Homo sapiens: one gene and its partners. The protein of the gene in region 2 purifies or fractionates together with the protein of the main gene of each other region. This does not show direct contact. Each region holds a gene or a part of one and is shown on either strand. Other genes may lie near its edges.

Region 1 (3,649 bases), on a different chromosome or scaffold from region 2:
GCTGGGATTACAGGCGCCTGCCATCACGCCTGCCTAATTTTTGTATTTTTAGTAGAGACGGGGTTTCACCATGTTGGCCAGGCTAGTCTCGAACTCCTGACCTCAGGTGATCTCTGCTGGGCTCCCAAAGTGCTGGGATTACAAGTGTGAGCCACGGTGCCTGGGCCTTGTTCCTCTTTTTTCCTGGTAATTTTCTTTGTTGAGACATCTGTCTTATTTGATATTACTGTTGTTACGGTAGCTTCTTTTGATTGGTTTTTGCATGGCGTATCTTTTCCTATCCATTGCTTTGAACTTTTAACCTACCTGTATCTTTATATTTGAAATTAGTTTCCTGGTTCATTATTTTTATTCACTCTGCTAATCTCTGTCTTGTAGTAGTGTTTTAGGCCATTTACATTTAATCTAATTGTTAAATATTAGAACTTAAGTGTGCCATTTTATTGTTTTTTGATTGTTTCCTGTGTTTTTTCTTCTGTTTCCCTTTTCCTGCCTGCTGTGACTTACTCGAATATTTTTAGTATCTCATTTTGATTTATCTGTTATGTTTTGGTGTATATCTCCTTGTATGGTTTTCATAGTGGTGGCTATACAAATTACAATGTATTTATGTAATTCAACACAGTTTACTTGTACAGGTATTTTACTACTTCTAAGTGAAATATAGAAACTTTATCACCATTTAGGTCTCTATCCTCTCCCCTTTACAATTTAGTTGTCTTAAGTATTTCCTCTGCATACCTTGAGAACCGTATTAATATTATGATTTTTTTTAAATACCTAGCCTTTTCAGTAACTCAGGAGGAAACATATTTATCTGCATGTTTATCTGTTCTGTTATTTTTTCTTCATTCCACGATGCTCTAGGTTTCTTTCGTTTTTCCTTTATATTTGAAAAAATTTTTTCAGCAGTTGTCTTAGGGCAGGTCTGCTTGTGACAGATTCTCTTAGTTTTTCTCTACGGTTTTACAGTTTTCATCTGTCATCTCCATTTTGCTATTAAACTGCTCTTGTGATTTTTTGTTATTGTATTTTTCTTTGAAATTTCTATTTGTTTCTTCTTTATATCTCCTGTTTCTTTGCTAAGACTAGTTTTTCCTTTGTCTCAGGTGTTTGTAATTGCTCATTGAAGTATTTTTTATGACAGTCACTTTAAAATCCTTGTTAGACCTAAGTTCTGTGTTCTCTCTTGGTGGTATCTGTTGATTGACTGTGTTTTCTCATTCAAATTGCCATTTTTCTGGTTCTTGGTCATTTTTTATCATATTGTGGACATGCTGGGTATGATGTCATGAGACTCTGCTTCCTGTTTAAATCCCCTTACTTGAGAAGACTCCTCACTCGAGCCTGCTGGGTGCCACCTTGTTGCCGGGACAGTCATGGAGCTCCTGCCTCACCCACGGCCTCTGGCAGACCCTACTGGCTGGGAGAGTGAAGGGCACCACCTCGTTCTAGCCAGGCCGGGACAGCAGTCAGGATCCATTCTCACACCCCGGTGCTGGCTGCTGCGCAAGGCCAGGTGGACGAGGGGTGTGTGTGTGTGTGTGTGTATGTGTGTGTGTGTGTGCGCGCGAGTGGGGGTTTGCTTGCAGGAGGGCTGATGATGTGAAGAGAGTCTGTCCTGCAAGGCCCCTCCTGGTGCCAAGTGGACGAGGGGTGTGTGCGTGTGTGTATGTGTTGTTGTGTGTGTGGGTGGGGGTTTGCTTGCAGGAGGGCTGATGATGTGAACAGTGTGTGTGGTTGCAGGAGGGCTGATGATGTACAGAGAGTCTGTCCTGCCAGGCCCCTCCTGGTCCTTTGGCCATCGAGAGCAGGCTTACGGTTTTTGGTCTTTTTGTGTTTCTGGGCTGCCGACTTCTGTGGCACCCAGAGTGGGATGTGTAGTAAATAAGCATAAACAAAACCCCAGAGTCAAGCCAGGGACTCAGCGCTGGGTTCTCTCTCGAGTGCCGAGGCCCCTGGCTGGTTGGCTTCTGTTCCTTTCAGTCCCCCAATGCTTGTTCCGTATATTTTCCTCCAGGGCAGTGGGTCTAATATGCGGGAGGAGCAGGTTGAAATGTGTCCTCTCCATGTTGCCTGGAACTGGAAGAGCTCAAACCAAATTTTAAACTTAATCAGAACATATTCTGGTTGGGTGTGGTGGCTCATGCCTGTAGTCTTGGGAGGCCGAGGTGGATGGATCACCTGAGGTCAGGAGTTCGAGACCAGCCTGGCCAACATGGTCAGGAAACCACAAGACTGTCACGGAAACCCTTTTCTTTCAGTAACATGAGCCAAAGGTCACTGCACCTTGTCCCCTCCTGACCCTGTCCCGGTGGCAGGGTGTGGGGGACAATGAACTGCTTGTCTGTGTGCCTCCAAGTGGGGCAAAACCAGGCAGCATCCTGCTGTTTAGCTGCACCTGAGACGATGCCTGAGGGCTACCTGAGGAAACAGGGAAACGTGGGGTTTTAGCCGGATGTGGTGGCGTGTCCCTGTAATCCCAGCTACTCAGGAGACTGAGGCGGGAGAATCACTTGAACCTAGGAGGTGGAGGTTGCAGTGAGCCGAGATCGCACCACGGTACTCCAGCATGGGCAACAGAGTAAGACTCCATCTGAAAACAAAAACAAAAAAACCAAAACATATTCTAAAACATAAATGTTCCCAGGAAAGTATTGATGTATTCGGATCTAAACTGCCTTTTTGATTACGGAAACTTTCATCTTGTAATTAATGTTGATGTAGTGACTGCTTATGGGGTGCGTGGAGCTTGCACAGCCCGACCACAGTTGTAACAGGAGGACAGCAGACAGGTTACCCGACGAGTGGGTTTCAGATGGTGATGGCTGCAAGGGGTGACAGAATTGAGCAGCCAGAAGTGGAGGCGGGAGATGAAGTAGAGGGGTGTTCCTGGGGAGAGACGGTTTTGGAGGGAGAGGCAGTAAAGGTGGGAAGAAGCGTGTGGGCTTGGAGGTATTGTAGAGATAAACATAAGCCGAAACTTCAGGTACGTTCCTTGCTCGTCAGTGCTGATATTCCAACTCCAAAGGAGTTGCACTGAGTTCTAGGTGCCTCTTTCAGATTACGAGGATACATATCTCTCTGAGAAAAGCTGAAAATACAGAAATGTGTAAGAGGGAAAATAAAGGGATTTATTCCACAATAGGACACATGTGTTAAAGTTTGTCTTTCAATCTTTTTACATATACTGTTAGAGGAAGAAATGTTTTGAATGACCCTTGTCAGGCACAGTGAGGAAGGCTTTATTCAGAACCATTGAGGTGGGCCTGGGGCCACTGCGCTGGGATTTTGCAGTGGGGGAGAGAGATGGAGCTCAACTCCAAGTACAGCAGGGGCCGGGGGGAGTTTATAGCCTAGGGTCAGGGTGGGGGCAGTGGATGGAAAATGACTGAGAGGACACATGAGGAGTAAGGGGATTTGGGCTAAACCAACTGAACAGGATTATTGCGAAAGAGAGGCCAGGGTGAGCAGACACCACCTATGGGATCTGGGGATGAGGAACCTGAGCAGATACTGAGGGTGGGGGTTTTGGCCGCACTAAACTGGACTTTACAAGGAAGGGCACAGATGGCCGAGGAGAAGATTCAGGAGCCTGAGTAAAGTTGAATTAAACCAAGAATCTGTGTCAGTTTCTACTCCATATCCA
Region 2 (3,649 bases):
CCAGGCATGGTAGTGCATGCCTATAATCCCAGCTACTCGGGAGGCTGAGGCAGGAGAATTGCTTGAACCCAGGAGGCGGAGGTTGCGGTGAGCCAAGATCGTGCCATTGCACTCCAGTCTGGGCAACAAGAGTGAAAGTCCGTCTCAAAAATAAATAAATAAATAAATATATATGTATCTATCTATCTCAAAGGCTTAACTCGGCCCATCCACCAGGCCTGCAGCCATGTGGCTCACCAATGCCCCTATACAGGACATGCAGGGCATGGCCACATTTCAAGAGCAGCCTTTTATTCATGGGCCATGAGCCTATTGCTGCAAAAAATGAAAAACTGCTCCTATTCTGATGAGAGCTGAAATTCAGTCTTAGAGTGGATGTGCTACTAAATGGCTGCATGTGAATTCGATTATTTTTTTGATACGGAGTCTGGCTGTGTCGCCCAGGCTGGAGTGCAGTGGAATGATTCCAGCTCACTGCAACCTCCGCTTCCAGGTTCAAGCGATTCTCCTGCTTGAGCCTCCCCAATAGCTGGGATTATAAATGCGCACCACCATGCCCAGTTAATTTTTGTATTTTTAGTAGAGACGGGATTTCGCCATGTTGGCCAGGCTGGTCTCGAACTCCTGACCTCAGATGACCCGCCTATCTTGGCCTCCCAAAGTGCTGGGATTACAGGTGTGAGCCACCGCACCCAGCCAAGTTTTTCTTAAAGGAAGACAACGCCTGATTCCCACAGCCATCTTTCTCGGGCATGGAAGCATTATAACATGGGGTCACAGATCTGAGTGTCACAGAATCTGCACTCTACCAGTAGCTAGCAATATGACAATGAGCAAGTCACTTAACCTCTGAGAGCCTCAGTTTTCTCTTCTGTAAAATGAAGATAACAATAATGTGTACTTCACGGGGCTGGCATATAATGAGGGTTTTAATGTTAACTGCAATCATAAAAGTAATTATTGATAGCAAGAATAACTTTCAAAGTCAAGTTTGCATGTTTGATTCTAGCCAGTTAACATTCGGACAAAGAAAAAAACAGCTTTCCATTGCCAAAGCCTTTGCCCCTAGACCCAGGGAGCCATCTTGCTAGTCCCCAAGAGGGATCAGGGCAGAAAGACAGCTCAGGGCAAGCCCATCCCTAGTGCTGGGAAAACAGATCACAAAGCTTACGACGCTGGTGCTGGATCCGTAACACCATCTTTATGGAGGGACAGGGAATGAGGGAGAGGATGAGGATGCCACAAATCTCTCCCGGAATCCCACATCTACTTTGCACAAGAGATCAGTAAGAGTGAGCCCCCAGCGCCCCCGCCCCTGCCTCCTATACCTTACTGTCCAGCTTCTTCATAGTCACTAGGTCCAGAGACTTCAGGGAATGACCCGTGGGGGCAATGAAATACAAGCAGACATGGATTCGGGAGTCATGGTAGGTGTGTAGCACTCTTCGGATCTTTAGCTCTTCCTGCAGGTAGGCCTCGAATTGTGCATCGATGAATTCCACGATAGGCTTGTAGCTAAAAGGGAGAGCAGGGACAGAGGCGGATCCCGTCAAAAACTTGGATTTTGACACCGTCCTTTTTGGAAGTTTCAAATGCCCTCTGTAATCTTGACTCTCTCCCATCCAACTGCATTTCTCCATCTCCCTTCAGTGGGCCTCCAATCTTGTCAGCCTGGCCACCTTCTTGGTCCCTACATGAGCCAAACTTATGCCCATCTGTGCACCTTCACTAGAATGCCCCTTTCTCTCTCCTCATCCCAATTCTGCCCTCCCAGACCTCAGGGCTCAGCTTAATGTCCTCCTCCTTCCTACGGCCTTCCCCACTTATGCCAGAAATCCCTTCTGCGAGTCAGGGGCATAACAAGAAATGGCATTCAATTACTTATTGTTGCTTCACAAGGATTCTCTCAAATAGATTGTGCCTTCCTAAAGAGCAGGGCCTGTGAAGGGCACTTGTCTGTCCCTCGGGGGGCCCCAACACAGCATGGAGCCCACTGGCTGTATCTGTAGAGGGACTGATTTTCCTCCAAGCTGGGCTCATGTCTTTGCTCCCTTTATCTCGCCCTACAGTGCCTAGATGAGAGCTGGGTACACAGTGGGTAACAAGACCTCTCTTTGGCCCACTGCTGGGCAATCTTGTGAGAACATTCAGGGCTTTTGCTCATTCTCGCTAGGTTTAGCGGAGCTCCACACTTGGCTCCCCCAAGGTCAAGATATTTTTCTGATTCTCATTTCTGCCAAGGTGGTGACTTTAAGTATTCAGGCCAGGCACAGTGGATCATGGCTCGTAATCCCAGCACTTTGGGAGGCTGAGACGGGCGGATCTTCTGAGCTCAGGATTCGAGACCAGCCTGGGCAACACGGCAAAACTTCGTCTCTACTAAAAATACAAAAATTAGCCAGCTGTGGTAGCTCATGCCTGTAATCCCAGCTACTCAGGAGGCTGAGGCAGGAGAATCGCTTGAACCCGGAAGGCAGAGGTTGCAGTGAGTGGAGATCATGCCACTGCACTCCAGCCTGGGCAACAGAGTGAGACCCCATCTCCAAAAACAAACAAACAAACAAACAAAGTATTCAGGCAAAATCTGGTAAAGCTACTCCCCTCCGCACACCCTGCACACATGGACACAGGCCCGCCAGCTCACTGAGTCTCCACACGCGGCTCCTCTAGGTGGCCCCCAAGTCTTGCCAAGGCTTCTTAAACAACAGTCAGCCCTCTATGTCTCTCTTTCCTGGGCCTCCCTGGGAAACTTCCCTCTCCCTCTGTCCCAGTCCCCTCCCACGTCATCCCCGTCACCCCTACGGCCTCTTTCTGCTCTAACTAGGTCAGCTTAGCTCAGCTCTGCCTCTTGTTCTCATCTCCCCTGTCTGTCTGCTGCCTCTCTGGCTGAGGGGGTGCCTCCCTTCAGGCTAGAAGAGGCTTGTCATGTGGGCCCAGGGCAGGGAGTTTTCAGATACCGCTGCCAGAAGGGAACATGATGATCAAAGGAGGAGCTGAGCCCAGCCAATGCCTCCCACCTGCAGCAGCTCCCAGGCTGAGCCTTTCTGAAAGATCCCCCTAGTAGAGAAGGGGAAAATAGCCTTTTAAGAAAGAATCACAGGATCCTAGATTCTGAGAGCTGCAGCCAGAGCTGAGATCCAGGTGCAGGCTATCTCTGGAGCCCCAGAGAAAAATCTTTTTTTTTAAGATGGAGTTTCGCTCTGTTGCCCGGGCAGGAGTGCAGTGGTGCGATCTCCACTCACTGCAACCTCTGCCTCCCAAGCCCCAGAGAAAACTCTAAAAACATAGTCCTTTCTTTATTCCTTTGATCCCTCCGAGCCACTGTTCCGAAGGGTAATCGCATCAAAGAATCTCTTGGTTGCAAAGATCCTTAGAAGGTTCCTGACGAATTTGGAGTGAGGGTGGGGAATGTATCCCCTAGGCTTATTTAATTAATTTTTGGATGTTTTGCTGATTTGAAATAGTTGATGATGGCACTGCTTCATTTTTTTTCTCAATTACGTAATTTTTTTTTACTTCATTTTTTGCTTTGCAGAAGGAATCAGAGGAAAGAAAATAAAGCTAAAAAGTGCATTTTTTAGCTCCCCCACACACCCCGAAATCTGTAGTGATACCCTGTGCCTGTCTTACTGCAATTGCCTCTGGCTCT
Region 3 (3,649 bases), on a different chromosome or scaffold from region 2:
ACGATCAGTACAGCTCTTTTTTTTTTTTTTTTTTTTTTTTGAGAAGGAGTCTCACTTTGTTGCCCAGGCTGGAGTGCAGCGGTGCAATTTCAGCTCACTGCAACCTCCACCTCCCAGGTTTACGCAATTCTTGTGCCTCAGCCTCCTGAGTAGGTGGGATTACAGGTGCCCGCCACCACGCCCTGCTTATTTTTGTATTTTTAGAAGAGATAGGGTTTTGCCATGTTAGCCAGGCTGGTCTCGAACTCCTGACCTCAGGTGATCTGCCTGCCTCGGCCCCCCAAAGTGCTGGGATTATAGGAGTAAGCCACCGCGCCCGGCCCAATAAAGCTCTTTTTAAGTGATCATGTCTGAACTCTACAGTAATGAGGCTTTACCACATTCCCATGTGACCCGACGTTGATGTGACTACACAAGAAGAACCTGTTAACTAAAGCCAAGAAGGCGGAGTCGACAGCTCCGTGACTCGTTAGGAAGGATGGGAGATGCAGTGTAGAAAGACAACCCCCTCTCCAGAGCTCGCAACACAAGCTCCATCTGAAGACGATTTAGATTTCCCTTCTCTGTAGAATTTGTGCAATTCCACAGGACATGCCAACTTCTGGGCAGAGGAGCCTCAAAATTTTCACTCACAGTGGCTTCCCTCTGGAAGGATTCTTTATAGAAAGAACTTGGAACACATTTCAGACAGACTGTGTGACCTGTTGACTGGCTAATCGGGGCCCAAGAAGAACAATTCACCACCAAAGGGCTAGATGTGGCCCAGCGAGTTCTGCAGCACAGCCCTCGTTCTAATTTCAGGAATGAAAGAGAAATACTAGAAGGATGCCGCTGGGCTGCCACCTCTTAAATACTTCCAGACCCTGGCATCGGCAGGGCCAGTTCTTTCACTGACATGATTCTATTTGACAGATAGTTAATCTAAAAATCTAAAAGCATATCTACGTTTCCCCCATGTGACACAATAAAGCTATTTTTATTTGGAAGAGGAAAAAGGTAGCAAGGTAAACATTTGTTTTTCTTGGATGAGACTCTGTGAAAATAAACATAGAAGAACATAATGAAATGAAGTGAAATGAAAAGGTCAGCACAGCCGACTTGGATACTGTGTTCTGGGCCATGCCTAAACTTGGTTCCCAAAGGCACCCACTGCCCTGAAGGCTGGAGCCAAGGCTTCCCCACCCTACTAGTCCCCGACGCCCACCTGGGATTTTCAGGTTCAGGTCACAAATGCTCCCGACAGTGGCCACGGACGGGGCCCGACTGGTGCGGGTGATGCTCTCTTTGACTCTTCCCTCCCCACTGATCTTCACGGTAAATGGGCTCCCTGCAAGACCCAAGAAGGCTCCTGTGAGCAGGCCAGAGGCCAAGGCACAGCATTTACAGAAAACCCAAGCATCCCACCTGGAGGGGAATGGAATGCACATACCAGGCACGTGCTCGTCAGCGAATTTGGTGGAGACGATATAAACCCCAGGCACGGTAGGGAAGTAGGAGACTTTGCAGGTGCCATCTTCCAGGTCCTCCGTCTGGATGTCCACTTTGCTGGGGCCTTCCACCGCCAAGGATATGCCACCATAACCTGCAACACAGCAGCCCCAGGCTGTTCTGACAGCAGCTCCTCAGGAAGAGGGAGCCTGATGAATGGAGAAAGGACATCCGACCCTTACGCCTCAATCTATTTCTACATAGCAGAAAGAAAGCAATGGCGGCCTCGTTTGCAAAGCCCAGAGGGGGATGAGTAGGTTAAGCGTCCTGAGAAGCCCCATAGTGAAATAACCTGCTGAACCTGGTTTTGACCACAGAAGCCTTTCCTTAAGGATATTTACTAATATCCCATAGATGATGTGTCCCGTACAAACTGCTGGGGAGGACCTTCTGCCCTCACGCCTCCAAGTACTGCACGTACCACCTTGGGGGTTTATCCACAGCCAGATCTGAGATTTTGAATTTTTAAATAGCCCCTGGCTACCTCAGCTAGGTCAGCATATCCGAAGGTTTAACAGGGAGTATCTCCCAACCAGGACCAGAAATTCTCCAGCCCTCTCCCCGGGTTAGAATTTGTCTAGAATTCACCAGCGTGGCCATCCTTCAAGAAAGCAGATGACTGGAGGCACTGGGGTGTGGCAAGCTTGGAAGAGACACAATCTAACTCAAACCATCTCAAAGAGAAAACAGAAAGAGATGCTTCATTTCCACAAAAGCTCTGCTCAGATGACCATGGTCTTGGCCAATCAACCCAACATTCTTTGCTTGGAGAGACGCTGGGAAGCTGAGAACAAGGGTGGGAGAGCAGATAAGAAAACAGGGGTTTGCGAGGTGTTGTGGCTCTGGGTTCAGATCCTAGTGCAGAGGGGGCTCTAAACCTTGCAAGCCTCAGTTTCATCATCTAAAAAACAAAGACAATCCCATTTTTGCCAATGGTCATGAGGCATAAAAGACAATGCAGGCAGAAGGACCTATAGCTTGAAGGATGCTCAGAAAGGAAAAGGAGTTGGTAGGATGAAAAGATGACGCTGCCTCAGCAAAATAAGTCGGTTCCCACAAGCTCTGGGCCTCTCCCCTGGGACCACACAGACCTGCATCCCTTGTGTCCACGATGAAGTCAGACATCTCGAAAGTCCGGCCTTCTGACAGGCCGCGGCCATAGACTTTGGCTCGGCGGGCGTCACCAATCTCCGACTGGACCACCATGATAGACACGGGGCTGTTGGCCACATGGTTGCCATTTTTCTTGATGCTGACCAGATGTTCGCCCACTTCCCGGGGGATGAAGGAGATGCCTGGACCAGAACACAGATTGGGGCTTGTAAGGGGATGGCGGAGAGGAAGCAGGAGAGAGACACACTCTCAGAAATAGAAATATGTCCTCTTTCCTGACACCCAACAATCCAGAGTGTCGATATCACAATGCACAAATACGCTTGGGCATTTATCGTGCGTGTGACCCAGCAGGTTTATCACATCACACTCCATTGTGCTACCCATTCCCAAGAAAGGACTGCAAGAGTCCCCATCTCCCACCCAAGATGTCCTGGCTCCAGCCAGGAAGGGTAGCCTAGCTCACCAATGTGGTTGTTGGGCAGCCTCTTCAGGAGACAGGGCTCGTCTCGGCCAGATGGGGCCTTAATGCTGGCCGTCAGGCTGCTGAGGTCAGTCTCACTGATGTCGAGCAGGAAGTCAGCGGCTGAGCCCAACTTCACCTGGGAGCACCGCCTGCTGTCATCTGGGAAACATCCCCCAAAAAGGACTCCCGTTACATGTGGTTACCCTGGCTTCACAGAGCTGCCATGCCATATGCTGTTCACGGATGAACACGCAAGAACTAATTACACAAAGTTAAGTGAAAAAAAAATGAGCCTTGAACACTGAGTAGACCCAACCAATGAAGAATGATGGGATTCATGCCTGCTTGCAGCAAAGACAAGAAGCTGGCAGGACCTAGAGACTTGAGTCCTCATGGACCACATTTTAAAGGAATCTTTGGGCCAGGTGCCTAATCCCAACACTTTGAGAGGCTGAGGCAGACGAATCACTTGAGGTCAGGAGTTCAAGACCAGCCTGTCCAACATGGTGAAACTTCATCTCTATTAAAAATACAAAAATAAGCTGGGTGTGGTGGTGGGTGCTGTAATCCCAGCTATTCAGG

What was found.
Region 1: the proteins of SEPTIN6 (region 2) and CEP72 purify together in Homo sapiens (affinity purification with mass spectrometry, with the first as the bait; one large-scale study listed by BioGRID). This does not show direct contact.
Region 3: the proteins of SEPTIN6 (region 2) and FLNB fractionate together in Homo sapiens (co-fractionation; one large-scale study listed by BioGRID). This does not show direct contact.

What each region holds. Positions count from the first base shown.
Region 1 is NC_000005.10:615,266-618,914, forward strand, and holds part of CEP72 (centrosomal protein of 72 kDa), read left to right. Parts: intron 1-2,563; exon of another isoform or gene 2,564-2,584; intron 2,585-3,649. UniProt on the Homo sapiens protein: Involved in the recruitment of key centrosomal proteins to the centrosome.
Region 2 is NC_000023.11:119,651,526-119,655,174, forward strand, and holds part of SEPTIN6 (septin-6), read right to left. Parts: intron 1,516-3,649; coding exon 1,329-1,515; intron 1-1,328. UniProt on the Homo sapiens protein: Filament-forming cytoskeletal GTPase. Required for normal organization of the actin cytoskeleton. Involved in cytokinesis. May play a role in HCV RNA replication.
Region 3 is NC_000003.12:58,147,783-58,151,431, reverse strand, and holds part of FLNB (filamin-B), read right to left. Parts: intron 3,227-3,649; coding exon 3,068-3,226; intron 2,784-3,067; coding exon 2,580-2,783; intron 1,583-2,579; coding exon 1,430-1,582; intron 1,328-1,429; coding exon 1,205-1,327; intron 1-1,204. UniProt on the Homo sapiens protein: Connects cell membrane constituents to the actin cytoskeleton. May promote orthogonal branching of actin filaments and links actin filaments to membrane glycoproteins. Anchors various transmembrane proteins to the actin cytoskeleton.